Linked DNA regions of Homo sapiens. The protein of the gene in region 2 purifies or fractionates together with the protein of the main gene of each other region. This does not show direct contact. Each region holds a gene or a part of one and is shown on either strand. Other genes may lie near its edges. The genes, in order: LNPEP, EDNRB, ATP2B2 and XPO7.

The links.
Region 1: the proteins of EDNRB (region 2) and LNPEP purify together in Homo sapiens (affinity purification with mass spectrometry; 2 studies listed by BioGRID and IntAct, with this or other methods). This does not show direct contact.
Region 3: the proteins of EDNRB (region 2) and ATP2B2 purify together in Homo sapiens (affinity purification with mass spectrometry; 2 studies listed by BioGRID and IntAct, with this or other methods). This does not show direct contact.
Region 4: the proteins of EDNRB (region 2) and XPO7 purify together in Homo sapiens (affinity purification with mass spectrometry; 2 studies listed by BioGRID and IntAct, with this or other methods). This does not show direct contact.

What each region holds. Positions count from the first base shown.
Region 1 is NC_000005.10:97,022,865-97,030,378, reverse strand, and holds part of LNPEP (leucyl-cystinyl aminopeptidase), read right to left. Parts: intron 5,859-7,514; coding exon 5,697-5,858; intron 3,763-5,696; coding exon 3,622-3,762; intron 2,647-3,621; coding exon 2,565-2,646; intron 1,978-2,564; coding exon 1,846-1,977; 3' UTR 1-1,845. UniProt on the Homo sapiens protein: Release of an N-terminal amino acid, cleaves before cysteine, leucine as well as other amino acids. Degrades peptide hormones such as oxytocin, vasopressin and angiotensin III, and plays a role in maintaining homeostasis during pregnancy.
Region 2 is NC_000013.11:77,901,584-77,909,097, forward strand, and holds part of EDNRB (endothelin receptor type B isoform 1 precursor), read right to left. Parts: intron 6,860-7,514; exon of another isoform or gene 6,109-6,859; intron 2,025-6,108; coding exon 1,912-2,024; intron 1,778-1,911; coding exon 1,573-1,777; intron 1-1,572. UniProt on the Homo sapiens protein: Non-specific receptor for endothelin 1, 2, and 3. Mediates its action by association with G proteins that activate a phosphatidylinositol-calcium second messenger system.
Region 3 is NC_000003.12:10,502,311-10,510,389, forward strand, and holds the start of ATP2B2 (plasma membrane calcium-transporting ATPase 2), read right to left. Parts: upstream 3,277-8,079; 5' UTR 3,155-3,276; intron 1-3,154. UniProt on the Homo sapiens protein: ATP-driven Ca(2+) ion pump involved in the maintenance of basal intracellular Ca(2+) levels in specialized cells of cerebellar circuit and vestibular and cochlear systems.
Region 4 is NC_000008.11:21,978,620-21,986,133, reverse strand, and holds part of XPO7 (exportin-7), read right to left. Parts: intron 6,051-7,514; coding exon 5,931-6,050; intron 4,404-5,930; coding exon 4,257-4,403; intron 3,495-4,256; coding exon 3,322-3,494; intron 1,489-3,321; coding exon 1,295-1,488; intron 549-1,294; coding exon 443-548; intron 1-442.

The DNA.
Region 1 (7,514 bases), on a different chromosome or scaffold from region 2:
AATATAAAAACACATTAACTTTCACTATCAACTAAATTATCATTCATTTAACCAAAGCACAAGAATAAAGACTTACAATCACTTCAGTTGAATAAGACATATTTAGATGATTCTGTGATTCTCAGGATATAATATTTTCTACTCTAAAACAGATAAATTTTAGAAAAGACTAAATTGGGGAAAACACACTAGGATTAAAGAAGACTATTTTTTTAGCTTACCAGCCTTTTAAATTTTATTATATAAAAATATTTTCATAAAATAAAATATAATTTTATTCACAATTCCATACATTCTAACTTGATACCTGCCGAATAAAAAAAGGGTGACCTTTCCCACTGTCTGACTCTGTGGAGTGTTTTAAGTGCTCACAAATGGGTAAATACCCTTTTTATGTACATAGAAACTGTTTTCAAACAAAATATAAAGTTCTCAAGAATTATTAGGAAGAAAGCTTTTCTCCTAAGAATCAAAGAAACACAACAATCTAGGTATAAGTCTGCATAGCTCAAAAATTCAAGTACAGTATTTCTCTTTCAGAAGGAGTAAAATGCCATACAGTTTCGGACATCCTCCCTCATTTTTCTTCTTTCCTTCTTTGACCACTCCTTTTATGTTAGTTTGGACACACAAAAAAAGAAAAACTACAATTTTTAACTAAACAAAAGCACTATTTTTGATAGTGAAAAAAATTCAAAGCCCACCATACTAAACACGAATTCAAGTTACTCCTATCCCACATTCTCTTTGTTCCTTTAAGGTACTATGGTGAACTTCAAATAATTGTTTTTCAATTTCTCAAAGGCTCTGTTTTAAAATATGCTTCTAATATGCTACACTATCATATAAAATGAAAATTCACACATGGGTATGATTCAGAGAGAAAGTTTCTATGATCTATGATGCCAAAAGGCAACTTAAATTGCATTCTTAGTGATAGTGATAAAAGTCACAATGAAAACCACTGGTGTTACCAAAATGCTTGCCACGAATGTAGAAATACTAACCTAAAGTATATCTACGGCAGGGAGTGATAAAGGTGTACAGATCTGGGGACTATCACCATTTATGAATAAAATAATTATAATTAAAGCTAACTCAGTTTGGAACAGTTTCCTATGGTAACGCTATAAAAGATGAAAAAGAAAGTCTTAAATATTCAAAAAATTTAACCTTTTGGCCTTGTTTAGCTTTTCAATACAACAAAAATTTTAAAAATCTGTAGCACCTGGCTATTCGGCAGGAAAAAAACACAATAGTTACAGACATTATTTAAACTTTTTTTCAGAAAAATAAAGAATTAATCAAAACCCCAAATCAAAGTAGATCTGCACACCTGAGGTCAGTTCTTACAGTGCATGCTTTATTGTCTTCGTTACCATATTCTTCAGAGCTAACTTTGTACCACATTCCAATGCCATCTATCAATAAGAAGCAACAGATGGCTGACAAACCAGCGGCCTGAAGTGATGGCGGCTCTTAGGGTAGAACTTTCCTTGTTTTACTGTGTCAGTAACTTTCTGGATACTGAGGAATAGAACAGAATTCCAAAACAGGGTTTTTGTCCCCATCTGTGTATCTTCAAAGTAGAAAAATTACTCATTGTTTTTGTAGATGGTTGGCATTTAGGTGAATATAATTTTGTAATAAATAACTACATACTGCCCAAAGACACTTCAGAAAAGATGGATGAAAAATACAGTCAGGCCCTGAGCTAACTAGAACTCCAAAGAGTGCAAACAACTTGGCAGCGATCCTGGCTTTACCTTGGCTTTTGCAAAAGCGGCAGAGCCCAAGCTTACAAGCTCTCTGAATGGGCAACAAAATGAGGTGCGGTTGTGCATGCTACAGCCACCATGTGAGACTTTTGAGGTTCTTCTCCATCCACTGGATATTCAACTGAATGACTTCCAAAGCCTCCTGGACACAACGAAGCCGGAAGGTTGCCTCTGACTGATTTTCAAAGAATGCCTGAACCTGTAAGTTTCACACAGAAGAATTTCAAAAGAAGAAAAGGACGATAAACCTCAGGTAACCCCAGCTTTTAAAATAAGCTTTAACTTAGTGATGGCTGTGCTGCTATCTTGAAAGCAGTAGAAAGAAGTACTTTAATATTCAAGGTATCTACATGGAGTTCCCAATCAAGTATGGTGATATCTGAAATGATTTTAAAAAGGAAATCTTTTTACTCCCACACAGATACATTTTTCTAACTTAAAATGGAACCAAGGAGATGTTTAAGTAACAATAAATAAAGTAGAGTCCAAAGGCTTGGTGCTATGAATTCACCCCAAGAATGCAATTCTTCCAAACAATTTTATGACCACTTAAATTATTTGTATTAGGGAGACAAGGGAAGAGAATGGAATCAGATTTTTTCCTCATTATCATATATGCCACCCTCTAGAAGTAATCACAATGCAGAATCATTAGTACTGATAAAGGAAGACAGAGATAAGAGAAGGAATTAGCATGAAAATCCACCATCTCACTAAAACTGAGCAGCCTGGTCCGGGTGTGCGGAGGGTTGCCCAGTCTCTGTATTATCATTTTATAAAACCAACCTCAGATAAATGTGTCTTTGTTGAAAACAGGTAAGTTGATCCAGCAACAATATTTTGTATGGTATAGGACCCCAGAGGGAACCTGAAGAAACACAAAAACAAGAGCAAAAAGATTAGGCAGCTGCTGGTAAAGCGTTGTTCCTGAGTGCAAGGAAAAGTCTTTAATGCCAAAGCCAGAGTGGAATCCTCCTCCCGGAACTGCAACTGAGGAAACCGGGGTAGCCCTATGCATACTTATTGTCGGTGGGAAGGAAAGGTGGGCAGAAAAAGGGAAGAGTTCAGAACATGCAGACAATTAATCCGCTTAACATTGTCGAAGATCACACTGTACACCCAGAAATGCCATTATTGATTTAAAAGAGAGAAAGAAGCAAAAAACCTACATCTGCATCTAGCTGAATGTGAGTTCTTAACTGATGCCTTGGCAATGCAGAGGTATTTTCCTTTTTGTTTTTTTTTTTTGAGACGGAGTCTCGCCCTGTTGCCTAGGCTGGAGTGCAGTGGCACAATCTCGGCTCACTGCAAGTTCTGCCTCCCAGATTCACACCATTCTCTTGCCTCAGCCTCCCAAGTAGCTGGGACTACAGGCACCCGCCACCATGCCCGGCTAATTTTTGGTATTTTTAGTGGAAATGGGGTTTCACCGTGTTAGCCAGGATGGTCTCGATCTCCTGACCTCGTGATCCGCCCATCTCGGCCTCCCAAAGTGCTGGGATTAAAGGTGTGAGCCACCGCGCCCGGCCATACAGAGGTATTTTTCAATATGCATAGCTAAATGGTTGCTATGAAATAGTCTGTAGCCACGCTGAGCTAAGTAACCTGGTGCCAAGCAAGGCTAGGCTTAATTAGAACTTAGATGGAATGCTACTGTTAAATGATTCATGCTATGGAATTATGTTAACAAATGTGAAAATTTCCGGATGTTTCAGTTAAACTGTCATGGAAGTATTTTTCCTCTCACAGCAAATCCTAACTTCTGTGAGCCAAAACACTGGGAGCTTTTTTCAAATGCACAACTTGAGAATACTAAAAGTTAATAATTCTCTGAGAAACTTACTTCTGTACAAGCTTATTCCAGTTCTCTTTGACAAAATCCCATGCCAGTAAGTGTCCAGGAAAATGTCGACCCACTGTTCTAATGATAAAAGACAGCTTCTGTGTTCGGAAGTTATCTCCATTCAGGCTACTTTTCATTAACCTGAAGAGCAAAGCAGATTTAGCCTCCAAAATTATTATTCATGAAGAAGTGATGACTGAACTTAAATTAAAATTAGTATGGTTTCCTAATTAAAGCTGTGTAGCAAATTGAGAAATAACTGTTGCATTAGTCTACGGTTGATCTATAGATTGAAAATGTCATTTTTTTTAAATGAAGAAAGAACTCACCAATAAAATAGGCATTTACCTATATTGTCACATGACAATAAATAGTTTTTAAATAGTAAAAACATTTAGGAAATAAGTTCTGGTAGAATTTATTACAATTCGGGAGGTGGGTATTTTTTTCTGGTAAAAACCTTATTTGATTTGAATGGGCAGGTTAATTATATTACTATTCTTAAAAAAAACTAGGTCATTTGAATTATTTGAAAATTAGGATACATTTCAGAATATACTCTTATTAATGTTCGTAGCAAACATTTACTGACACTATGTACTAAATAATGTTCTAAGTCCTTGACACAACAATGCTATAAAGTAGGTATTTATTAATACTACCTAACTCAATTTTATAGTTGAAGAAACTGAGGTTATCTAATTGACCCACAGTCACACAGTAATAAATACCAAAGCCCGACATCTGAACAAAAGCAGTTCTCATCTACTATGCTATACTATCTGTTTATAGTGAGAAACCACGCCCCACTCCAAGACTGTGGCAGTATTTTTAGGAGAGAAAAAAACAAAAGCCCAACAAAACGTGATGGATTAAATAAATTATGATAGGGCCATACTACAGAATATTATGAACCCATAAAACACTTTAGTTTTTTTTTATATATAAAGCAGGCTTCATGAAGTGACATGGAAAATCTCATAGACTGATCATTCACTAAAAAGATGGTCACAAAACACTGGGTATGGTATAAACCTAATATGGTTTTTAAAATGCAGTTAAATATGTAGGTATGTGTGTATGTATGTACGTACATATGTACAAATATCCATTCCCACAGATGAATACAAAGACCAGGACTGACACTGTTGTTAACAGAGAAAACGAGAATGGAAGTGAAGGATCATGAGAAATACTTTCATATTTTACTCTATATTCTTAGGTACTGTTTAAATTCTTTATCATGGGCATTCTTAGTGTATTACTAGCATAGTTTAAAAACAGTGATTTTTCTCTATTTGCTTAAGTCAGAGGCTGGCTAATACTTTAAAGAAAATGACTATTTACAGCGTATCTTTTGGTAAGTGGGTCTGGACAGGTACTGAGGACATCTCTGGGACACTATTAAGATTTATCTGAGCAAAATCATACAACAGAAGTAATGAGACCCAGAAGCCTCCTTCTATCCTCAGTGCGACTTCTAACACCTGTGCTCTCTACAGCAGATACCTCTATATTCCTCTTGGCTATGTAGAGCTCCTCTACCCCACCACTGCCTGTTCTTCCTGTCAGGAGGCCCTACTTACTGCCCTACCTTCATCCATATGACACTCCTACTTCTGGGCCTTCATCACTACATATTAAAAAGGAAAAGTCTGACAAATAAATTCATATGAACGTAGAACCTAGAAGGTTTAATATGTGATTTTTTTTTTCTGAAATGCCTACATTTTTAAAATGACAGCTTGCACAAAGCAATGCCTTGGTCCTAAACTATGGAGTACCAATTGTGGTGTATAAGACAACATTCCAAGGGGAGGAAGACTTTTTGAGCAAGGAGTAGGAGGGGGCTGTGACTCCTGACATCTTGTAATCCCTTTTGGGCAAAGGATTTTCTGCTTGTCCATAAAGATAAAGCCCAGCACCTGTAGTCTCCTCACCACACTGTCCAACTTAGGCCTGGCCTGTAACAGAAGTGGGGAAAAGAGATCCCCTCAAAAATGAGCTCCTGACCAAGAGCACAGTGTTTGTATTCTTTTGGTTTCTGTATATCATATTCCTCGGTGATTTCATACCAGTAAAGCTTCCGCACATCCTCTGAGCTGGCAAGTGCTTCTAGTATTTTGTTCTTCTCTGCTTCAGAGCCTATAGAAATGTATTTGCCCAAAAGGAATGACCAGCCTTTGTCAGTTTTTGCTCCAACTTTGAACACAGTTGTCATGACATCAGTAGGTAGGCTGTAAGAGAGGTGGTCAAACATGAGAATAACAAGAAAATATTCTGAATACAAAGGCGAAGAGTTGGCTGTGGTGGAGTTTCTGGTGTGAGGGTTGGTAATAATAACAAGTTTGAGTACACAATTTAGGGTTGAGAAAAAGTTTAATTCAGTGACTGCTATCTTCCTAGTAGTGTGTCTATGGATACATCAGTTCAATTTAATATTCACAGAGTACTCACAAAGAACCAGGCAGGCGACTGGCTGGACACTAGGGAGCGGAAAAGGAATGAGAGCCTCTGTCCTCTGAGAACTCACAGGCTACTACGAAGTATAGAGCAATAACTATATGCATTACAATTCAGTGTGATAAGTTTCATGGTAGAACTATAGCAGTAAATGGGGTGCAGGGAGAAAACACAGTCTACTGCCTTTATTAAGATCTCAGAGCTGGGAAAGACCTCAAAACGTTATCCAAATCCTCCACCCCAACTCTTCATCTGATGCTTGAATCTTCTCTCCATAATGCACGGTAAGGAGCTGGAGAGAACTAATTACCCCCAAAAGCTTTTCTGTTAACTGCTAACTCTACCTGCTATGTTTTATTTCTAAATTAAGAGACTTGTTTATCACCTCACACCCATTAGGATGGCTGCTATCAAAAACCCAGAAAATGGCAAGTGTTGGCAAGGATGTAGAGAAATTGGAATGATGGTGCAGCTGCTGTAGAAAACAATATGGCAGTTCCTCAAAAAATTAAAATTAGAATTACCATATGATCCAGCAATACTACTTCCAGGTGTATTTCCAAAAGAATTGAAAGCAGGGTCTCTAGGAGATATTTGCACACCAATGTTCATGGCATTATTATTCACAATAGCTAAAAGGTACAAGCAGCACAAAGGTCTATCCAGGAATGAATGGATAAACAAAATGTGGTATATACATACAATGGAAAATTATTCAGCCTTTAAAAAGAAAGAAATTTTAGCCAGGTATGGTGGCTCATGCCTATAATCCCAGCACTTTGGGAGGCCTAGGTGGGCAGATTTTCTGAGGTCAGGAGTTCAAGACCAGCCTGGCTAACATGGTGAAACCCCGTCTCTACTAAATATACAAAAATTAGCCAGGTGTGGTGGCGGATGCCTGTAATCCCAGCTACTCCGGATACTGGGGCAGGAGAATCAATGGAACCCGAGAAGTGGAGGTTGCAATGAGCTGAGATCGCGCCACTGCACTCCAGCCTGGGTGACAGAGCAAGACTCCATCTCCAAAAAAAAGAAAAGAAAGAAAGAAAGAAATTTTAATGCATGCTACAACATGGAAGAACCTTGAAGACGTTATGGTAAATGAAATGAGCCAGTCACAAAAAAGCAAATTCTATATGACTTTACTTATATGAGATATACAGTGTAGTCAACCTCACAAAAACAGGAAGTAGAATAGTGGTTACCAGGGGCTGGTGGGGAGAGGGAGTGAGGAATTATTCAATGGGTACAGAGTTTCAGTTTTGCAAGATGTAAAAGTTCTGAAAATATAGTACACAATAATGTGAATATGCTTAACACTACTGAACTGTACAGTAAAAAATGGTTAAGACAGTAAATTTTATGTTATGTGTATTTTACCACAATTTTTTAAAAAGTCTTGTTTGACACCGCATGTTCTCACTCATAGG
Region 2 (7,514 bases):
TGAAGTTCTCATTTTTTAGCAAGTTTGTTTAATGGGAACAACAGATACGAAAAGGTCTAGGTTAACCATTTAGCTCAGTAACATATAAATCTAACCTCGCAAAAAGACAAAATCTGCTTTTGACTTATGTCGTATCTCTTATTCTTTTTCTTCTCTGTTATCTTTTTCATATTGCTTTAGATATATCTGTGTTGGAGAGGAAATTATGTAACCTAGGCAGCACTTTTTTTTTCTTTTTACTAATAGGAAACAAGGAAATAGCAATTTCATTTTCAATTTCACATTATGTCCTTGATTCTTTTACTTATCATGATATATACAGTTCATAAAGTTTTATTTAGTCTCCTTATATATTCAATAGAAAATAATCATTGGGAATAGTTAAGCCAGCCCCCTTTGCATTAATGTCTCTTAACTCATTCTGTTGGGAAGAGCCTTTTACACTCAGGATCTATCTTCTGGAAACGAGTATCATCATTCTTTTTCTATTCCCTAATCAAATGTTCTTTAATAAATGACCAGGATGAAAAGTTTCTTGCAATGGCAGCTTTCTTTTTGGCATCAAAGACAGAGAGAGGGGAGTCTTGCCATTCAGACTCCATCCATATCAGGGTGACTTCTATCTGAATATTTGCTGGACCATCCATTCCTCTGACAACTACTGGGCTATCTTGTGCAGATTACGTAGTAGTTGTCAGTCCTTATGGGGCTGTAGGATACAGTAAATTCCTCTTCAAAGAACCAATATGTCAGTGTGTTCAGCTTCCCTGTTCTTTGTTCTCCATTTTAAAGTTTAACTCCCTCATTCTTTACATCTCCTTGCCCCTAGTTTCAGTAAACAACCCCCTCCTAGCCTCTATCACCTGCTCTTTCCTTAGTTATCCTTCATCACCTGCTCTGTCCTTAGTCATCCTTAGTCACCTGCTCTGTCCTTAGTCATCCTTAGCCACCTGCTCTGACCTTAGTCATCCTTAGCCACCTGCTCTGTAACTGTCCTTCCCGCTGAAACTACTCACCCCACCACTCCAGCTCGTACCCCTGCTCTTTTTAAAATAGCCAATTGGAATTAACTTAGACTGTGCGGTCCAACCCTACCCAATAGGGGAAAGATGCAGCAGTGGGAACTAGCTACATCAGGGATAACACCCCCTTCCCCTCCCTTGTCTGGTGTGCTCTCGCCATTGCTCCATTGTGAGACACAACCTTCTATAGAAGTAAATTGCCTTGCTGAGAAAACTTTTGCCTGAGTGCTATTTTCACTTTGTGGCACCAAACATTTTACTTCTAACATGGCTTTAGGTAGAAAGCTATAAATTCACATCAATTCTTTCATGTGGACCTGGTTTATCTATGCCACTGAGATCAAGGGGATTCTTAGAGAAGTAGTGATCTAGCTTCTTGCAGCTTGAGTCATTGATCACCATTAACTCCACAGTCCTTGGATCTATACTCTTAATTTATGCCAAGGACAGTCATAAATCAACAGTTTCCCAAGGAGTGGGGAACAGGGGAAAAATAGCTAAATATTTATAAGGCAAGAGCAGAAAGGAAAATAAAAAAAGTGAAATTTACCTGCATGAAAGCTGTCTTCTGAACGGGATGAAGCAAGCAGATTCGCAGATAACTTCCTTTGTAGTCCATCGTAATTATATCAAAACCTATGGCTTCAGGGACAGCCAGAACCACAGAGACCACCCAAATCAAAACAATTTCTACTGCTGTCCATTTTGGAACCCCAATTCCTTTAATTCTACTCCAAGAAGCAACAGCTCGATATCTGAAGATAAAAATAGAATTGTATTTTAAGCTGGCATACCTTAGTTTTATTGAATTGCACAGTTTATTTTCTAAGTAACATGGAAAACAATAGTATATATTCAGAATATACTTGGATTAAATAGAAGCTTCTACCTGTCAATACTCAGAGCACATAGACTCAGCACAGTGATTCCCACAGAGGCTTTCTGTATGAAAGGCACCAGCTTACACATCTCAGCTCCAAATGGCCAGTCCTCTGCCAGCAGCTGCATTGAGAAGACACGAAGCTCTGTTAGGGGGTTTCATAAGATGCCCTCTGAATTGTATCACTTAGTGAAGAGTAATTAACATGCAGAGTAGGATAAACTCTGGTTGTCATTCTTTTTCTCATGGACTACTTCTTTGAAAAGCACCATTGTTTGATATATGTATGGGACAGGAAAGTGTGTTGGGATTGATGAAAATGCAGCCAGCTTATAAGAAGTCATCATGCGTATACAGTAGCTTAGAGTTCAGCTCACCTCATCAGAGCAAACTTGAGCCAGTCGCTTAAGTTCCTCCTGAAAATTGAACCTGTATACTGTCATGGAGTCTGAAATGCCCAGATCATGGCCAAAGCAAAATATGGGTTAATTAAAATTGAATGATAAACAGTCCTTAGCTGAGGAGACCAGACTTCCCTACTGAAGTAGTACTCCATGCAGAACAGCATGTGCATTCAGGCACTTGTTCTTCATTGCAGTCAGTTTACCTAACTGAACAATCATTCAGTAGGAGTAGCTACACAGTTGCTCAAACACACCAGGCACATTCCTACTTAGGGCTTTCGCTGTAGGTCCTTCCTTATCCTAGAAGGCTCTTTCCCCACAGATTCACCTGGTTAACTCGCTTATCTCCTTCAGGTCTTACTCAAATTTCATCTTTTCAACATGACTTACCTTGATCACACTATTAGATACCGTAACCGGTCAGACATCCCTATCTCCCTACTCTCTTTTCCTTTTTATCCATAGTCTATCAATTCCTGTGGCATAACACATTAACTTATTTGTTTGCTTAGATTTTTTTCTGTCTGGATCCCTGGAGTGTAAGACAGACTATGAGCTCCACAACTGCCTAGAACAGTGCCTGACACATAGCAGATGTTTAATATTAACAGTGCTTGATTCATAGACTCTAAAATATAACAGTGACTGGCTGTATAAGGAGCAAGAAGACATAGTTATTGCTATTATAGATATATATTTATACACACACATAGTATGTTATATATATATAGTGTGTATATATGTACACGTATATATTTCTCTTTATCTGACTGCAGACTATGAAACCATCTATTATTAAATGTGGTTATTTTCTTTCTTAGGACAATATGGTGTGTCCCACACTGGTAAATGAATCATTTTAGGTGAACATCTGGATCAAATGTTCATGAGGTTTTGAAAATAAAAGTATTTCAAATCCATGGGTCTTAAAAATAGTTTGAAAAACAACCTTGCAAAAGTGAAAATTATTTTGAGACACAATGGAGTCTTTCCATCCTTTCACTAGTAGTGAAGACTCTACCGAGTTTGTCAAGCTGAGTTGATTGTTCTATAACTAGAATGACGTCAAAGGCTAAAATGTTTGTCTCATAATGAATTTGACTTGGAGATTCAACATAGGACCAACTTCATTTCTAAGTTAGATATCAAAACTTACACAGACATGTAGGACAAAAGTTGGCAGACTTATCATATATATGCTTAATGTAGGATCCTGAAGACCTACAGGGCCAGGCAGGTAACACAGAGAAGTGGAGGGTGCCAGGTCTCAGAAAGTCATTGGTGTCAGGAAGATGACAGGGAGTGGGGTGGGGTCTGGGGTAAACTTTGTCTGAAAGGAGCAGCTGCTAGTAGACATCACATACTTTTTGCTAAGGGGCTCCAAATACAAAAATCTCTTGATTTTTCTAAAGAACCCAGATTGGAATTTTTATATGAATCTCACAATTTATTAAAGTCCAATTCATATATATTTTTAAAAAACTCTCATATAACATTGTATTATCAAAATACATCTGTGAGCCATCATAGCCTCTATCTTGTGACTTCTGGGTTAATCAACTGACTCATTAATTCTGCTTGTTCATTCATTCATTCAATGAATATTTATTGAGCATTCACTATGTGCCAGACACCATTCTGAGCACTCCTGCTCTCATGGAGTTTACACTATAGTGAGGGAGGCAGACAAAAAACACATACATACTTAAAATGGTGTTAAACAGAGGCTGTGATCATATTGAGTGAGGGTGGGATTTGAGGTGTTTTCTTGATAAGCTTCTCAGTAAGGTCACCCTGAAGAGACAGCATTTGAGGAGAGACTTGACTGAAATAAGACAGTAAGCCATGCGAAGAGCATTCTAGGCAGAGGCAAGAGCATGTGCAAACGCCCTGAGGTCAAAACAAGCCTGGTGAACTGGAGGTACAGCAATGAGGCTACTAGCTACTAAAGCTGGAGAAGACTGACCCAGCCCAAATGCATGGAAAATGAAGTTGTAGAGGGAAGAATTTGAATGCTTTTTTTGAGGGAGTTCATTGCAAGGTTTGAAGAAGGGAAATGGCATGATCTAACATATTTTTCAAGAGATCACTGTTGCTGCCCAGTGTAGAATAGAATGTAGGGCCAAGAAAGGAAGCACTGATGAGAACTAGTGGTGAGCTGGATCCTGTGCGCCCTGAGGCTGTGAAGAGCGGGTTATAGGCTGTATATATTTTAAGGGTAGAGGTAGCTAGCAGGACTTGCTGATGGGTTGGACACATGATGTTGGAAGTCAGGACACTCACAGAGGTTTACCATGTGCATGGTGAAGCCATTTACTGAAATGGGGGAGACTCAGTGCACCACAGGTCTGAACCAGCTTTGAACCCATGTAGCTTTAAAAGAACTGCCAATTACCCTTAGAAATAAGAATAAAAATTATCCAACTGGTTTCAAGGATTATGCTAGACCCAGCCTGGTACAACTTATTCAGACAATATTCTGCTATTGATTACTCCTCCCTTCAAAACATGAAGCCTAATTTCCCTGCCTTTGAATGTGGATTGGACTTAGTGATTTGTTTTCAATGAATACAATGTGACAAAAGTGATGATGTGTGATGTCTGACACTAGTTCCTAAAGAACTGGCTTCCTCTCTCTTGGAACACTTATTCTGGGGGAGGCCAGCTGCCATGTCATGAGGACACTCAAGCACCTCTGTGGAGAAACCAGATGGCAAAGAACTGAGGCCTCTTGAAAACATCAAGCACTAATTTGCCACGTCTGTGAATAAGAGGATCCTCCAGCTTTAGACAAACGTTTGGACAACTGCATCCCCAGCCAGTATTTTAAATGTACCTTCTTGAGAGACCCTAAGCCAGGGCCACCCAACTAAGCCACTCCTTAATTGCCAAACCAAAGACACAATGTGATTTAAAAAATATTTACTGTTTTAAGCCACTAAATTGTAGGGTAATTTGTTATTCATTAGGAAACCCACATGCCTGCTTGCATTTGTTTGCTCACTTAAGTGAGTAATAGATCCACATTTGAACCCAGATGGTCTAGAGCCTATGCTTACAACCACTATAATACCTGCCCGACAGTGGTTTGAAGGAGGTGATTGTACAAAACAAAATGTTTAGAATTAAATCAAATTTTTTTTAAACCTATAGCTATGTGTCAAATAATAGTAAAATATCTAGATGCAGAGCAAAATCTTCTGCTCACCTAGTGCGATGGTTAACTTTATGTGTTAACTTGACCAGCCACTGGTTGCTCAATTAAACATTCTCTATTTCTGAGTGTGTCTGTGAGGATGTGTCTGGAAGAAATTAGTATATGAATTTGTGGACTCAGAACAGCAGATTGCCTTACCCTAGGTGGGTGGCCATTATCCAATCTCTTGAGGGCCTGAATAGAACAAAAGGCAGAGGCAGAAGGAATTTGCCCCTTTTTCTTCCTATCTGGAATGTCTCATTTCATCTCCCCTGGCCCTCAGACTGGTTTCTCAGGCCTTTGGACTTGGACTGAATTACACCACTGGCTTTCCTATATTTGCAGCTTGCAAATGGCCAATTATGGGACTTCTTAGCCTCTATAATCTCATAAACCAATTCCTCATTATCTATTTATCTGTCTGTCTACTAACTACCTATCTACCTATCCATCCATCTATCTATCCCACTGGTTCTGTTTCTCTGGAGAACCCTGACTAATCCCCCTAGTTATTTTATTCAAATAATGTACAAACATTTGGATATTTTAAAATATTTTATTCTGTCTTAAATTATTTCCAAATATGTTAATATTGTTATCCTGTAGGTATGGCTATCAGAAGAATCAAGATGAATGAGCGTCCAGACCATTGAAGGGAAAGAAGTCTGGCTGATGAAAATGAGCTCTGCACTGAATCCAGGCCATGTTTTGAGGTTTCCATTGTTTTTGGCTCAGCCTAGAAATTGGATTATTGCTCTTCATACCACTGGAGGCCTGCAGCCCAACCTCTGACCCAAGCTATCACAGAAAACAGGGAAACACAAACTGAAAATTATAACAATGCTCTTCAAGCTCAACAGAGAGATAGTCAGACACGTAATCACCACGGAGAGATTACAGTTTTCTAGTCTACACTTTTGAAGGGAAAGAGACTGCAAAAAAAAAAAAAAAAAAAAAAAGAGAGAGAGAGCATTAACCTTTATCAGCTTTCAGCATTTCATGCTTTCAATTTAGAACTGGATGCTATTGGCTCTGGAAGGCCATAGAAGATGTGGGAAGAGCATGCACTGTTGCTTCCATTATTTTGTAGTGAGAAGGATGGCTTTGGCGAGACTCTAAACGCTCTTCCTTTAAAAATCTTAACCTCTGCCTCACTGATCAGAAGGCTTTGTGGAGACCCAGCAAAGCCTGATACTCTGTGACAGAAACCATGCCCACTATTGATGCTCATCTCTGTCATCTTAATGGCCTCTAGCAAGAAAGTCTTTAGGCAAGCTAGTGCTTGAAGCTTACCTAAAATATAAAGGTATCCCTGGTGGGGAAAAACTATGAAGTTTTGCCAAAAAAAAAAAAAAAAAAATTCACTCTCAACCAAGATGCCATCTTTAAAATTTGGTGAGAGATTGTTCTTATAGATGGGTATGATTCTTAGACATTCATTTCTTCATCATTCTTTGGGAAAAATAACAACATCTAACATCAATAATTTGAAGTCTAAGGATACAGCTTTCCCCACTGAAGAGGAAATGGATTCACTTTATTGCAAGAGGAAGCAACTCTAACTTTAAACCCAGCAATAACACATTCCTTATTCCCTATTTTTAGTTTTTTCTTTGGACTTTACCCCATTAAATTAGATAACTTAAGGGCAAGGTCTGAACAGTGAAGACAATTCAAACATGTAATCAAAAGGCTGTCTCTCTGATCGCAAAAAGGGTGTTTAGAGTTTAATATTGACACTATGTCGCTTCCACATAAATTAAAATTTTAAATCCTGTTTAAAATTCAGTTGAATATATGTTACCTAACATTGATCAAATATGAGCCAGTTGGCAATACTCACATAACTGGCACTGGTTTTCATATCATGATGTCTCATCTAACTGAATAGCTGTTGTTAGTGTTAAGTCCTGCTGGCAATATGGTATCCATTTGACAAAATGATAGCCTATGTTTGTGCTGACCCATTTTACCCTAAGGCTTATACTGCTTCTCTAGAACATTTCTTTTGG
Region 3 (8,079 bases), on a different chromosome or scaffold from region 2:
GCAGAGATAGGCCTGCCTGGCCACAGATGAGAAGATTGAGGGCAGAGAGAGGAAGTGACTTGGCCAAGATCACACAGCTGGTCAGGAGCAGGGCTGGGCCCAGGGCTCTCATACTTTCCACCCACAGTCAAACACCTGGGGAAAACCAGGGGCCAACACAGGCCTCTGCTGCTTCTTGTCTGGGGCCTGAGAGCACTTGCAAGAAGCCCAGGTCTCTACAGAACACGGTGTGACCTTGGACAAGTCCCTGTGCCTGGCTGGGCCACAGTTTCCTTTTTATAAACGGTCCCAGCTAGGTGGCCTCAGAAGGCATCTGTCTGCTTTGGCTTTCTAGGCATCAGCAACTCCATAGGGTAAAGGGACGACACAGCGGTCCGGCTGCCTAGGTCAGGGCCACGCCCGCCTGGGGAAGGCTCCTCCGCCTTCACCCATAGGAGATCCTCTTCACTCTTTCTCGGAATCTTGCCACAAAATTCTAAGTTCTTGAGCTATAGGTTCCCAAAATTTTGGTACCCCAATTTGAACTGGCCTCATGCCGAAGGGTCAAAGAGGGTAGTTGGGCACCTGGTGGCCTGCCTTCTACCTCCCCTCTGCCACATGCCAGCTGTGTGACCTTGGGTGACACAGCTTCACCTCTCTAGATACAGCGTCCTCATCTGGGACGTGGGGATAACAGGGCTATGGGCGTCCTCACTGAGATGATACGTGCAAAGCAGTTAGCTGGGTGAATGCTAGCTGGATTACTATTATTTACTTGGGTCCCCTGACCCATACCTGCGCCTGAGCTGGGGGAACGCAGAGGAGGGCAGCGGGACAGCACAGGAGGGTGCCAGCATTTCAGGCTCTGCATACAACGTAAGCCACAGCAGCTTCTCTGACCTTCAGTCTGGAGGGGACTTTGGAGTCTGCTGAAGGTGTTCCAGGCCCCAGCTCTCAGAGACCCCATAGCAGCGGGCTGGTTTCCTGATGCCAGGGAGAGGGCTGGTGGGGCCAGTCTGGGCTCCTGGCGGTCTGGGCCACGGGCAGCAGCTGCGTCCCTGGCCGCCTCTGTCTCCTTTCCAACTTTGGGCAGCCTTCTCTGAAGAACATCAATAACCCAAGATGGCCTTGCTGAGTCTAATCACAGCTCCCTGGGAATACGGGCTGGCCCTCCCCCAACGCCTGTGTGAGGCTGTGGCGGGCACTTAGGATCCAGTATCCCTCTGTCCTCATCGGAAGTCCCTTAAGGGGCAAGCTCTCCCTAGCACCCACAGAGCCACCTTGCCTCCTGGAAGCTGAGGGGGCGGGTGTGTGCACGCAGCATCCGCAGAGGTGCTGCATCTGTGTGCCTGTGGCCGTCTTCTTATGTGTGCAACTGACATTCACCTGTGGGCACATTCCAGCATGCCATGTGCCTGCCAATGCACGGGCAGGCACGCAGATGGCATTCAGAGCCCCACATGTGTGTGCCTGTTGTTTTCACACCTGAGCCAGCCCTCAGGTGGGTACACACATTTCTGGCTGTTGCAGGGCACTGTGTGCAGCCTACTGCTTTCCCGTGTTAGTGCTACATGCATGTGTGGGCAAGCTGCATGCACAGGTGTGTATGTGTGTACTGCATTCGTGTGTGTGCTGTGTTTTGCACGTGAGCATGTGGTGTTCAGGAACGTGGGTTGTATTTACAGGTGCTGGGGTGTGGGCATGGGCATTCCATATGTGTATATATGATTTGGACATATATGACGCACTACTTATGGGTACTATATTTGTATCTGTGCATATGTGTGAATTTGTGGGCATGCATATGCCCTGATGTGAATGGGACTAGGGTGTGAAGGTGGCTAAATAATGGTGGCCATCAGCATCTTTCCTGGACCCCCAACCCCCCACAGGACTCCCCAGAGCTGCAGCCCCTTCTTTGCCACTGCTCCTTCAACGAAGTTAACAGGCGGAGGCCCCCAAGGCCTGCGCTCCAAGCCCCCTCCTACTGCACACGTCAAAGGAGAATTTCTCCGGATGGCGCCCGCTGATCCTGGAAATACCCCAAACGTCAGCTCTGCCTCCTCCCAGCGATTCGGAGAGCAATGCAGGAGAGGAGGGAGCCCCTTCCACGCTGGGCTCAGGGCATGCAGCGTCGCACTAAGACCCTCTGCCGGCTGGTCGGGCTTGCCTGCTCACTTACCCTTCTGAAGGTCGAGCCAGGCTGGGCCTCTGCATGGAGGGCCCGAGACCCCCAGGGCCCTTGCCTGATTGGGGCAGGCCAGTCCAGAGCACCCCCCCAACCCCCAACCCCCAACCTGGGTGAGCAGAGGACAGCCGTGGTGTGGAATAGCTACTTGGCTAGAAAGGGGTTGCTGCTGTCCGCAACCCACCCTCAGGGAGTCCTGAGGCCCCCTGCTGCATTTTCCCATCCTGACCCTGCAGGGGGCAGGGAGGAGCCTCAGGTGCCCTATCCCTCAGCTGGAGACCACTGAGGCTGGCCTAGGAAGTGGGCTTCTGGGCAGAGGGTGCCGACTCCACCACCCAGCATGACTGCTGCAAAATGGCCTGGCCACCCGTTCCTGCCACCCTCCTGGCCATGGAGGGGACCCAGGAACACGTCCCTGCCACCACATGACCCGGCTGGCCTGACCCAATGAGTCCCAGCACACAGCTGCCCACCCCACCAAAGGGACGCTTCACAGGGGCCTCCTCCTGCCTCTTTCCTGGGACTCTGACCAGGGTGGGCAACGGGCACCCTCCAGTCCTCTTGGTCTCCCTGGGACCGGCTCAGAGAGAAGAGAACCTTGTCCCCTGCCACCAGCTTGCTGGCCCTTGCATAACATCCTTAGGGGGCATTTGCAGTCCAGAGGCTGCCGGAATCTACCTGAGACCCTGGGCATCCGCTTGTCCGAGGCCCCCCTGTCCTAGTCCCCAGCATCCAGCCGTCCCCCACAACACGCGGACCCTCACACTAGTGTCTCCCTCAGCGGCGGCTCCCAGTGCAGCCTCGGCTGCTGCCAGATAAACAAGCCCTGCTCCCACCCCCCCTCCACGCTGCCACCGCCACCACCATCAGCACTGAGAAAAATCAAATGAAATGAAACAAAATAAAATGGGTGAGGGAGGAAGGGGAGAGTGGAGTGGGGCGCTTTTTATTTTTTATTTTCTCATGCTGGGGGATGCCGGTACTTACTTGGCTATGAAAATCACCACCAATCCTGCACGGTTTCCCGGCGGGCAGCCCCGTAATCGCGGTGCGGCAGCTGGTGCCGCGGCTGAGCCCAGCCAGCGTGCCCGGGCCCCTCTGCAGACTGTACCATCCTGCCCGAGCGGGTGGGGGGCGGGGGGCGGAGGCGCCGGCGCCGGTTCTAGGAGAGCATCTCGCCGGCAAAATGCAATCTCGGGGGAGGCAGAGGCCGCCCCTGCCGCTGCCGGAGGCTGGGGGATGGGGGCGGGAGGAGGGAGGGAGGGAGGGACACAGGGAGGGCCGGTTCTGGAGGGGGCACGGGGGAGGAGAGTGGGGGGCGGGGGGGGTGTGTGGACCGAACCACCACGCTGTTGTTTGCGGTTTTAATTCCTCCCGTGGGATCATGAGGAACCGAAGCTGGCAGAGTCCCAGGAATATGCCCGCTCCCCAGAAGCAGGAGGGAATGTCAAGGGCACGGAGAGGGTAGGGCTGGGCTGTGCTGGAGGGAAGGGGGTCCTGAGAGTGGTGGTGGGGAGAACGGGAGCAGAGAGGGGAGGATTTTGCTCAAATGGCCCCAAGTCGTCCCTTGCTTTCTGGGGGACTTATTTGGTCAGGGGCTCTGGCCCCCCTCTTTGCAGTCAAGGCACCCCCAGACCTGGGGGGCAAAGGGGCAAAGGTCGCAAATGGGGAGAAGTCGACTCAACACATTTTAAACACATCTGTGTTTCCAGGGCCAGTGGAGCTGAGCCCGCAGCAGCTCTCTGCTGCCCTGAAGCGCTACCCCTGCGACCCGCCCTGCCTGTGTGCGACCCCACCTGCCCTCGGGGGGGTGTGGTGGTGGGGGCTGGCTTGGCAGAAGGGCCTGCCTCAAGAAGGTGCCCACCAGCAGGGGTGTCTGCATGTCTGTACACCCACCTAATCTTCAGGACATCTATGATGAGTTGCAGGCCGACTGTGGGCTGACTGACACTTCCACGGGAACCCAGGGACCCCGGGTGAGGAGTCGGTAGGGTTGGAAGCCCCTAGCCAGCTGCTCACCTCTTCCTGCCTAATCTCTGCCAGACTTGCTGCTCTTTCAACTCCAGATGGGTGGGAGGAGAGCCCTAAGAGCAAGGTTAGGAGGTCACCGGGGGCGAGGGGCTTCTCTAGAATTCTGAAGCCTTGGCCTCCACTGCCCTGCCCCCTCCAGGAGGGGTACCCTGCTTGGAGGGAGGGCACTGAAGGTGGAAGGACCTTCAGGACCAGTGTCTCAGGGCACCTGTCAGGGTGGAGGGGTGCATGGGGGACAGGGGCAGGGCTGGAGGCGGCCCCGGGAGGCAGTTCCAGGCAGAAGCTGCCTCTTTCCCCTGCCCCCACCTCCTGCCCACCTCTGAGCTGCCCGCCCGAGCGTCCCGAGCTGCCGCTCCATCCCTGGGCTGGCACAGAATACCAATTTGTCTCGTTAAGCTGAAAGTCTGCACTGCACCAAAATCAGAACCCGGCCGTGCAGAGGGGCCACGGGAGGGAGACAGTTGGGAGCGCCTGAGGTGGGTCTCCCACCAGTAGGCCATGCTGAGACCTCCTTGCTCCTCAGCCCCCAGCCCCATGGAAGGGTGCCCACCTGCCCCTTAGCCCGCAGGGTGGCCTCAACGCAGGGAGGATGCTGCGAAGCTACGATGTCAAGGGCCGGGTGGTCATTCAAGGCCTTGGCCTCCACTGGGGCAAGGGTGTGAGTCAGAGGCCAGGCAAGGCTCCCTGCTGGGGTTCTGACAGAGCAGCCCAGGACACCCCTCAGGGAGGCTCTCGACCCCACACCAATAGCCCAAGACTGGGGGCTTCCAAAGCAGCCTCATCTCTGCTTCATCTTGCGGGTGCAGATGGGAACTCTACCCCTCTTAGGGGTGTAGTTGGGGGGATTCCACTGGCCACCCCTCTAGGTGGTCTTCTAAGTCAGCAGTCCCTAGTCAGCTCCACCCCAGGGACCAGGGCCAAGCATCTGCCCTTCCCCAAGGCCCACAGGCTCTCCGTTCCCCAAAACAGGCCCGTGTAAAGCTGTTCCGAGATGTTGGAGCGAGGGTGGGCAAAGACGGGCAGAGGCGGAAAGGCCCATTGCACCTCCCATCTGTTGCCAGCCTACATGTCTGTGCCAGGAATCCCACCATTATTACTTCAACATCTTTGGCGGTAAACTGCTTTCCCTGCTTACAAAATAGCCCGAGAAGCAGCCTGTTATGAGCCACACATTTCAACAATCACACTGCCTTCTGTGTCCGGCACACTTTACAGTTTGTAAAGGCCACCTACAAAACAGTAAATCATTTGATCCTCCCAACTACCTCTGGGGTGGCTGCCGTGAGCACCCAAGGTACAGATGGGGAAGCTCTGTGTAGTTCAGGGGGATGTGGTGGCCAGGGCAAGGTGGCACAACCAGTAAAGAGTAGACCAAACTTGTGACGGAGGCCTCTGGACTCCAAGCCCAGGGCTGCCTGCATGCGCAGGCCATCATGAGTGTGGGCTCACTGGGAGCCCTGACACTCGTCCGCTCCCAAGTCTTGAGTCTTACCTTCCCGGTGGTCCCTGTCTGAGACGGGCTGGGCTCTCACCAACGCACACTAGCAGCCAAACTCTCAGGCAGTTGTGGATTTTGGTTTTCAGACCCTAAGACTAGAACTGCCACCTGGCCGAGTTCCCATCTCCTTGACATTCCAGATCCCATGTCTTTCAGCGCCTGCATCCACCCCGCAGTGACTGGATGCCCCTATCTCCTGAGGCAGTGCAAATATTGAACAGCAAAGTTTGAAGGTTTTTCCTTGTGGGTATACCCCAGTTCTAGGCCCACCCTACTCATTCTTCGAAGTCCAACTCAAATTCTGCTTCCCCAGACAGTCCTTCCTGATTCCACCAACTGAGTTGGTTCATGCCTCTGTTCTACCTCTGACCACACTGTATTGTGATGGTCTACACGTCTGTCTCCCTCACTGGGCTGTGACCACATCAGACATGTCTCCAGCATTCCAGGTCTCAGGTCCCAGCATGTGTTAGATGGTGCAGTAAAGGCTTGAATGAGTCTGCTGGACCCTTGAGAACTCCTATCCAATTCTCCCATTTTACAGTTCAGCAAACCGAAGCCTCAAGAAAAAGATCAGGGCTTGCCTAAGGTCATTCTTGAGGGTGGAATCTGGCTGCAGACATCTGTCCCTTGCCCCGTCCCCTTTGCCTTCTCTTCCTGCAGCAGATACACCTGGGTCATCTGGCCTGGCCTTCCAGGATGTGTTGGGGGGCAGGGGGTATTGGACAGGCAGAGGTGTTGTGAAATTAGACAAACAATGGCACTAGTGTTGCAACTCCAGGAAGGTTGGAAATGACAGGTCAGGGTCAGCCACAGGGAAGAGGGGGAAAGAGGCAAGAGGCCAGCTGGGAGGATTACTGATAGCTTCTGCCTCCAGCATGATTTGGCTTATGGTGGACACCGATTGAGAGTCAGGGTTAGGGAAAGGTATGAGACATAGGGGAGGGGGACGGAAGGAGGAGCCAGCCAATCTGATTTTTACTCTGTGTTTAGTTGGCCAGACCATGTTTTTCTCCCTTGGGGAGGGGTCCTGGAGCTGAGACACAGGGTGAGTGAATAGGGTCAGTCTGTCTAGGAATGGGGACACAGAACTTGGCCCAGGCTGCTGGAGGCTCTCTGCACAAGGGCAATAGAGGAGGCTCTCTGCACGAAGGCAATAGAGGAGGTAGGTCCAGGCAGGTCTGAGGGGAGAGGACTGAATGTAATTAGAGGCCAGCTGTGTCTTCGGTATGAGACGTGGGCTCTCTGTTTTTGCTCTTCTTTCTGGGAAGCATGGATGAGGGCTACCCCTGCCCTTGCCTTGCCTGGCTCGGGGTCTGTAGACACCTGGGTAGGAGTTCTGGGGCAGCTCTCAGGTCACTGCTGCCCCAAAGAGCTGTCAGCTGGGTTCCCCGGGGGATAAGAAGGTATTTCCAAAGGTCTCTCACATTCCTGTCTCCTCTGACCCCCACAGATCACCCTCAAAGAGCCCAGGCTTCTTCCCATTTTACAGAAAAGAAAATTGAGACCTGGAGACCACAGGGCCTTACGTGAAAGTTACAGAGCCAGTGAGGACCAAAGCAAGATTGAGGGTCCCACTCAAACCCTAGGCCCCTCTCTCTGCGCCTGCCTAAAGTTACCCAAGTTTGAAGCACACAACTCAGGATCTCTAGCCCCAGACCTTGACGGGCCGTGGACTGTGGATCCAGGGGACCACACGGGCTGGCTTGCCCGAAATCTCCTCTCCAGTCACATGGAAGCCTCGCATCCACTCCCCACTCCCACCAAGGCCTGAAACTCCCTCAGCCAACCAGATCTCGAGTGGAGGCTTTGTGGCCACACAGACCTGGGTCCAACTCCCAGCTCTCTCACTTACAGGATGTGTGACCTTGGGCAAGTGACTCGACCTCCCTGAGTCCCAGGTTTTTTTCATCTGCAAAATGGGTATGATAATACCTATTTGGCGGGGTTGCAAGTTAAAGGAGAATGGCAACTGTTATTAGTGGAAGAAACAGAAGGTGAGAGTCTCCAGCAGGCCCCAGGGAAAATGCTGGCGGAGAGTAGGTGGCTTCCAACTCCTCTGGCTGGTAGATAAGGGTTCCCAGATAGCATCTGCAGGGCTGAGGCTGGTCTGGTCTCTAGTCTATTGAGATTTGAACGCAGGTCACCAATTCTCCCCTCCTCCTACTGGTCCTTGCTCCCTCAGGGAGGAGGTTGTAGGCCTGGCTTCTGGCGAATTCTGGCCAGCCACCATTCACACTGACATCCTACTATGTGCCAGGCATTCTGTGCACACACCTCGTGTGTTCCTCACAAAACCCTGGGAGGTGGATCCTATTTTTATTCCCATTTTACCGATGAGGAAACTGAGGTACAGGTAAAACATTGTAGCGCAAGGTCACAG
Region 4 (7,514 bases), on a different chromosome or scaffold from region 2:
TTTGATAAAATGAGAATTGCACAGATGAAAAATAACTTGAAATGTATGGCCAAGAGATTTGAAAGGCTGTAGGAACTCTGTAATTCCATCTCTGGTGAACTTTAAAGAACTGCAGTTTCCTTTTAGACTTATTTTGGGATGGCAAAAGCAGTCCATATTTTACTAACTCTGAGATACTATTCGTAAAAAGACCTAACAGAGAATCTCTGCTTTAGTTTTCCTAATTCCGTATCCATTATTTCCTTTCTGAATTATTGCTGGTTTTTTATTTTAAAGTAAAGATCATAGGCAGAGTTATCATGGCACTTACAAAAGCCTTGAAAGCTGTGTCTCATGGGCAGTTAGCATGTTCAGATTACGTTCTGTAAGTGGAGAGGACCCTATCGGGGAGTGGAGAAGTGCCAGCAAGGCAGAGTGGAGAGCTTCTGTGGGGAGCACTTACCGACAGACAAGCTCACCATCCATGGCGTCTTGCTCATCAGTGCTGGCAAAAGAAACCCGGCCACCGATCACTGCTCCAATAATGTAAACCAGCCATGTCAGCCTTCCTGCAGCAGGAGACAGACCCAGTGTCACCTCCAGTGATAGTTTCTTGAAGACATTCCTCACTCTGAACTTCCTTAATCTTAAGAACACTGTGGTGAAACCATGAAGTCTTACTTTTCTTACAGAGAATGGCTACTTCTCTGCTTTGGTAAGGGCAATGCTAAGAGGGAAATTCGTTAGGTAACCAATGTTCCTGTATCAGACAAGGCCATTATTTTTAGTGTAGTATTTCCTTAGAGTTAAAAACACCCAAGCTGGGCACAGTGCCATGTTACAAACACCAGCCAGGCCCGGTAAAAAGAGGAAGCCCAGGTTACTATCTGTACTTATCTCCCTGTTTCCCCTGGCCCTTGATTTAGCAGTCATAAACCTCTTGGCCTGGTCCCAGCTGTGCTGTGGGGCATTAAAAAGCAGACAGGAGCCAGGTGTGGTGGCACATGCCTGTAGTCCCAGCTACTTCGGGAGGCTGAGGCAGGAGGATCACTTGAGCCAAGAAGTACAAGGCCCACGTGGCAACATAGCGAGACCTCATCTCTTAAAACAAAATCCCACTGCAGATGTGATTTCAGTTCTTCTTCCCTAGTCCCTTGAGGGATTTATTCATTCATAAAGATTCTTGTGCATATGGAGACAACAGATGATGAAAGAATCCTTTTGCAGGGAGGTAGGAAAGAGGTGGCAATGAGCGAAGGGGTACTAGACAACATCTCCTCACAGGTCTAGAGTTCCCAGCACGCTGCACACTCACCCTCCTGCACTGCAATGTCCATTGGGCTTGCGCTGGCGCTCTGTAGCAGCTCCTGGTACGACTGGGCCGACTGGTCAAACAACTGCACGAGGAGTGCACACGTCTTCTCATATTCACAACGCCCAATGGTGGACAGCTGGTCCAACTGCTGCTGGACCAGCCCCGTATCCTCCAGGGGATCTTCCAGGCCATCTCTATTCCCAAGGGAAGAAGGAAGGCAGCTCTCTTAAAATATGACTACTGATTTGCCCAATATAGCAGCTCTCTGACTTCTTCACTTAGCCACCATTTCTGACTGTAGAGGTCTACATCCCGACATTACTTTTAACCAAGGAAGAATGTTTAATGAGGCAGAAGGCCAATGTCTTCGCCCTAGCATCAGTCTCCCTTAGGTATATTCTGCTTGTTGGTGTCAAATCTTACAATCTGAATTCTCAACTCTTAATGTTTTTCTGCCTTAAACCTCAAAGTCCTGCCCTTCTCAACTGTCTGACCTCTTGACTCTTAGTCTTTCGCTTGTTCTTGACTATAGTAAACTGTAGGATAAGTACACAGTCCTGTGTGGGAGGCCATTGTGGCCAGGTGTGTCTTGGAATTCAGAACTGTTCAAATTGGAGGAAGGCAGTATGATGCTTCTACCATATCATATAAAACCCTTGATGGGCTTTGTGGCACATCAAACTCAACGTTCCTGTAGCAAAACTTATGAATATTATAAATGGTCATACTAAGTAGGATTTTAAAAAAACTACAAATGGTCTCATACCAACTCCCGTCCGGTTTTGTAACAAGTGAATTCTAATGCCAAACTGATGAGGAAATTTCTTTTGTCACATCTTTGACTTTGGAATTGCAGACAAGGCATTGTGGCCCTGTACTAGGTCTTGCCTTATCTGCCAGCTCCTAGATTTTAACATCTTGTCCAATGAGGAGCTCTTCTGTTGTTACACTGCAATATGATAATGGCAGCAGCAGCAGCAGCAGGAGCAGCAGCACTAAAACTAGCTGTGTGCTTACCATGTGCTACACACTGTGCCAGGTCATATTAATTTAATCCTTGTAAGAACCTTATGAGGCAGGCCTATTATTATTTGAATTTTACAAATACAGAAATGGAGCAACTTGCCCAAGAGTACAGAGCTACTAACTGGCTATCCGGCCCCAGAGCCTACAAACATGTAACCACTCCCCAACAATGCCTCACTGAAGCCAGCCGAATCCTCAGGAGTGGAAGCTATGGAGGTGACAGAAGAAGGCTTGCTGGTGAACTTCATGAATACTCAGATTTTGAACTGATTCAAGTCATCAACAGTTAAGACTATAACTCATGACTATTCAATGCACTTGGGGCTAAGCAAATTAAGAATCCAACTTAAAAAGGCCCCAGACCCTTAGACTCCAAGTAAATTCTCTTGACAAACAGCCAGTGAAAACAAGAAAGCTACCTAAACAGGGCTATAACTTCATTTAATATAGGTAATTTTTGAAAGGGCTTGACATTTCTTTAGCTACGGGATTTTGGTTCAGTTAAGTCAATGTAGACAGAAACCATGTATGAATGTAAAGCAATCAGTGATCAGTGGCTTAGAATTCTTATGTGTTCTAGCTCTGGAATTAGAATTGATAACTAGATTGTGTAATCTTTATCCACTTATTTCTTTAGGAGTTCACATTAAGCACCTATAAGTTACACATAATTCTTATCATCTATATCTTATAAATGTTTCTCACATTGAAAGAAAAACAGCGGCAAGGACAAACATTATATGGATATACTCTATTCAAAGATATTGCTATGGACAGTGAAAAGGGGGAATATGAATAGAATATAAATGTTCAAGAGACAAGACTATTCTATCAGGCTTTATGCTCTCATGCTACTCTGCTGACAAGGAAGAAGAACCATGAACAGTAGTGGCTCCAATGAGACACGCTTCGAGTACCTCTTTGCCAATGGGGTGTCTGATCTCTAGGAAGTGTGACAACAGGCCACTGGTGCGGGAATGAATGAGGCTAAGTTTCCTTACCTCAGTATGATGTGCACAGATTCCAACCGGGATGTGATGTAGGCTTTGGTGACCTCAGGAGTGTAAGTTTCCAGCATGTGGGGCTCTGTGGCTTTGACATACGGCACAGAGGCTGCCAGCCGCTGCCACAGGCTCAGAAGATAGTGCACACTATTTGGAGCAAATTCCCAGTGCTAAAGAAAAGTAGAAAAGCAGAAGGCATATTTTTCATTTCTGTACGTGTTAGTCCCATGCCACTGACACAGAAGATAAAGACTTTTTTCTTTTTTTTAAAAAAAGAGGATAGACTTTTGTGGGCTTTGTTCTGTGTATGGCATCTAGTTTAATGTGTTTATTAGTATTTTCAAGATTAAGCATCTAATGAGAAGGGCTACTCTATGCTGGCTGTGTAAGCCTTACCATAAGGAAAGCCATATGTAAGTGGGTCTCAACCATTAGTATGCATGACAATCACCTGAAGAACTTGTTAGAAACACCAAGGCTCTACCCTGGACCTACTGAACCAGAAATTATGGGGATAAGACTCAAGAATCTATATTTTTTCATCAGTCCCCTAGATGACTGTGATACAAGCCATAAAATTTGAGACCCATTGTTCTATATTACATGACTAAGAAAGAGAGGGCATCAACTCTCTTTTTACTCTTCTGTCTAGCTCCCTGTTCCGACCTTGGCTTTTTTGGGGTGACTATGAGCTAATTCTCTCTGGGATGAATCTAAATATTATCCTAGTAATTCCCACATGTTCCTCTCCCCACACTACTTGCACTTGTGTAAATGTAAATCACAGGCCACAATAGTAACTACTCTGTAGGGCTATACTGGACTTATGGTTACCTTTGCCAAGAAAAAAAAATATATTCTTACATGGTTAAAACCAACAAGCAAGAGATTCCAGTATTTAGGAAGGAAGACACAAGTAATCAAAGACAAACCTGTAGGCTGGTCACTGTGAAGTTGGCTATCAATCGGATGACCTCAGGGTAGTTTTCCACCTTTACCAATTCTCCCAGTTGATAGTTACTCTTCAATCGGGCCAGTAGTCTGCAAAACTCATGGTAATTGTTTGGGTCTGATAAACTCTGGCAGTAGCAGAGGAGAAAAATAAAATGTAAAATGTGCCTTAACATACTTCAAGAATGATGTATACTTGAGATGGCATGGGGGAAGGGGTAGAATCTACTTTTTAACTTCTGGGCTGCAGGTCATGATTCAGAATGATACGTCTGCATAATGTTCAGAAACAATTTTTTAAAGTCACTTTGAAAAGGGACAGTCACATTTATTATCTCATATGTTCACAATAATAATCACATGAGATGACATTATTAGCCTCAATGGACAGAGTTTGAAACAGAAGCCCAGGAGGATCACACTGAGGCTGTAAAGCTCATTATAGCAGAAGTGGGCACGACCTAAGACGTGACTGACTTGTTTTCTTATTGTTACCAATCAAAGGAAATCTAATGAAATTTTCATTTCCACGTCTGTCAAACTGATCATTCAGCACAACTAACCGATAGTTAGCAAAGTTATACAAATGTTTCATATATTTATATCACTTACTGTAATTTATTCATATAGTAGTATTTATATGATATAGCAAATATTACAGCTATTTTAAAATCTATTCTACCAGTATATTTAATTGTAAGTTTCCTGATATGTCTTCTTCTGTTAGCATATGTGGGCTAAGACTTTGTTTTGTTCACCCGTGTATCCCTGGCACAGAGTAGGTATTCAATGTAATTTGTTGAATGAATAAATGAATTTTAAAAAGAGGGACAAAACTGAGTATATTTTGAAATAAACTGCTTTTTAATTTTCTTCTAGTATAGAGAAGTGATACTTTCAAAAAAATACTGAATCACTGGGACTTCAAAAGACAAAAAGGGCAATCGAGTTATGAAATTAACGTTTGAAAGAAGTATCTTCCTTCCCACCTAAAAGCAGCCCTATATACTTAGGTTACCGATAAACATTTTTTAAAAATGGTAAACAAAATCAAAAACCAAATGTTAGTTTTTTTTTTTTTTTTGAGACGGAGTCTTACTCTGTCGCCCAAGCTGGAGTGCAATGGCATGATCTCGGCTCACTGCAACTTCTGCCTCCCGGGTTCAAGCGATTCTCCTGCCTCAGCCTCCCGAGTAGCTGGGATTACAGGCACGTGCCACCATGGCCGGCTAATTTTTTTTGTAGTTTTAGTAGAGACAGGGTTTCACTATGTTGGCCAGGCTGGTCTTGAGCTCCTGACCTCAAGTGATCTGCCCACCTTGGCCTCCCAAACTGTTGGGATTACAGGCGTGAGCCTCTGTGCCCGGAGATGTTAGAGTCTTAACTTCTTGGGGGGAAAAATGACTAGCTTCTTCCTTATTTCCTTATAGCGAAGTGATTCTTTCCTGTAACTCCTACATTTCTGAAGCGGGAGGATATAAGCTCCTCTTTTGGGCAAATAATCTCAGAATTGGCCTACAAATAGAGATTCACTTCAGTCTTCCCTGAAGAACAGACTGAATTGTTTACTGGGCCTTGGGATGGATTTCCTTCTGACTCATAACAGCTGGCCATACACTAATCCTATACATATGTAAATTCTCAGATAAACTTACCTGTGGGTTTTCCAGTATTCGTTTAACACCATCAACAAGATGAGAGAGAAACTTGGCCCTCTCTGCATTGTTAAACAGGGATCTTCTGACTGAAGCGATCTGTACCAAGCAGGATAATACCTAAATGCAGGGCAGAACCCAAACACAACGATTAAAAAGACTGTACAGTTACTTTCACCAGAAACGTTCCACCTCCTACAATATCCTTCTTTAGGATATCTGAAGCAACATTATTTTAAAAAGAGAAAAGAAAAGAACATAGATCCAAGCAGACCACGGCAGCCCATTAAATTCAGTTTGGAAATTCCCTTAGGTACAAATTCCTTTGACCACTCCAATGGCATCTTTGTTCTTGCTGAGATACGTTATTTCACCCTTAAAAATATCGAGCAATTTATACTTTAAAGTTTTAGATTTAGTTTTCTTGGCTAATCTGAGTTTGACATGTAGATGTTATGTGCTTATGTCATTACATGCTATAAAGAAATAAGCGTATCGGCCGGGTGTGGTGGCTCACGCCTGTAATCCCAGCACTCTGGGAGGCTGAGGCAGGCAGATCACGAGGTCAGGAATTTGAGACCAGCCTGGCAAACATAGTGAAACCTCATCTCTACCAAAAATACAAAAAATTAGCTGGGCGTGGTGGCAGGCACGTGTAATCCCAGGTACTTGGGAGGCTGAGGGAGGAGAATCGCTTGAAGCTGGGAGGCGGAGGCTGCAGTGAGCCGAGATCGCGCCACTGCACTCCAGCCCGGGCAACAGTGAGAGACTCCGTCTCAAAAACAAAAAAAAACGAAAAAAAAAAAGAAAAAAAAAAGAAATAAGCATATCACATCTGGGCCCTAAAAAAGCCAGCTTTGGCCAGGTGTGGTGGCTCACGCCCGTAATCCCAGCACTTTGGGAGGCTGAAACAGGCAGATCACCTGAGGTCGGGAGTTTGAGACCAGCCTGACCAACATGGAGAAACCCTGTCTCTACTGAAAATATAAAATTAGCCGGGCGTGGTGGCTCATGCCTGTAATTCCAGCTACTCAGGAGGCTGAGGCAGGAGAATCGCTTGAACCCATGGGTAGTGCCATTCCACTCTAGCATGGGCAACAAGATCAAAACTCTGCCTCAAACAAACAAACAAAAAAACACAACCCAGCTTTATCCCTGAAGACATTTCCCTCTGTTCCCACTGTGTTAGATATTTACATTCTCTGTTTGCCCCCTCTAGATCTGCTTTCGACCCTTTTCCACCCTGCCCTATTCCCTAGGAGGCTGACCTCTGTTGAGGAGAGCAGCCAAGCTCCCTTGCCCTCTGGCTTCTAGTTGGCTTCAACCAATGGAAAGTACCAGCAGGAGATTAGAGGGCAGAGGGAACAGGGTACCCCTCTTCCGACCATCCAGCTGGCTATGCAGTGGCAGAGTTTCTCTAGTGATGGCTGTAGTTCTTGTTGTCCAGCCCTCCTCTAAGACACAGCTTCAACTCTCTCCAGGTTTCCTTCACTTGCCCTTTGAGGCTCCCCACTACTGCCAGCCCCAGGGGCATGCACCACCACCCCGTGCTGGTGTCCCTTAATTTTACCCATACCTTTGCAA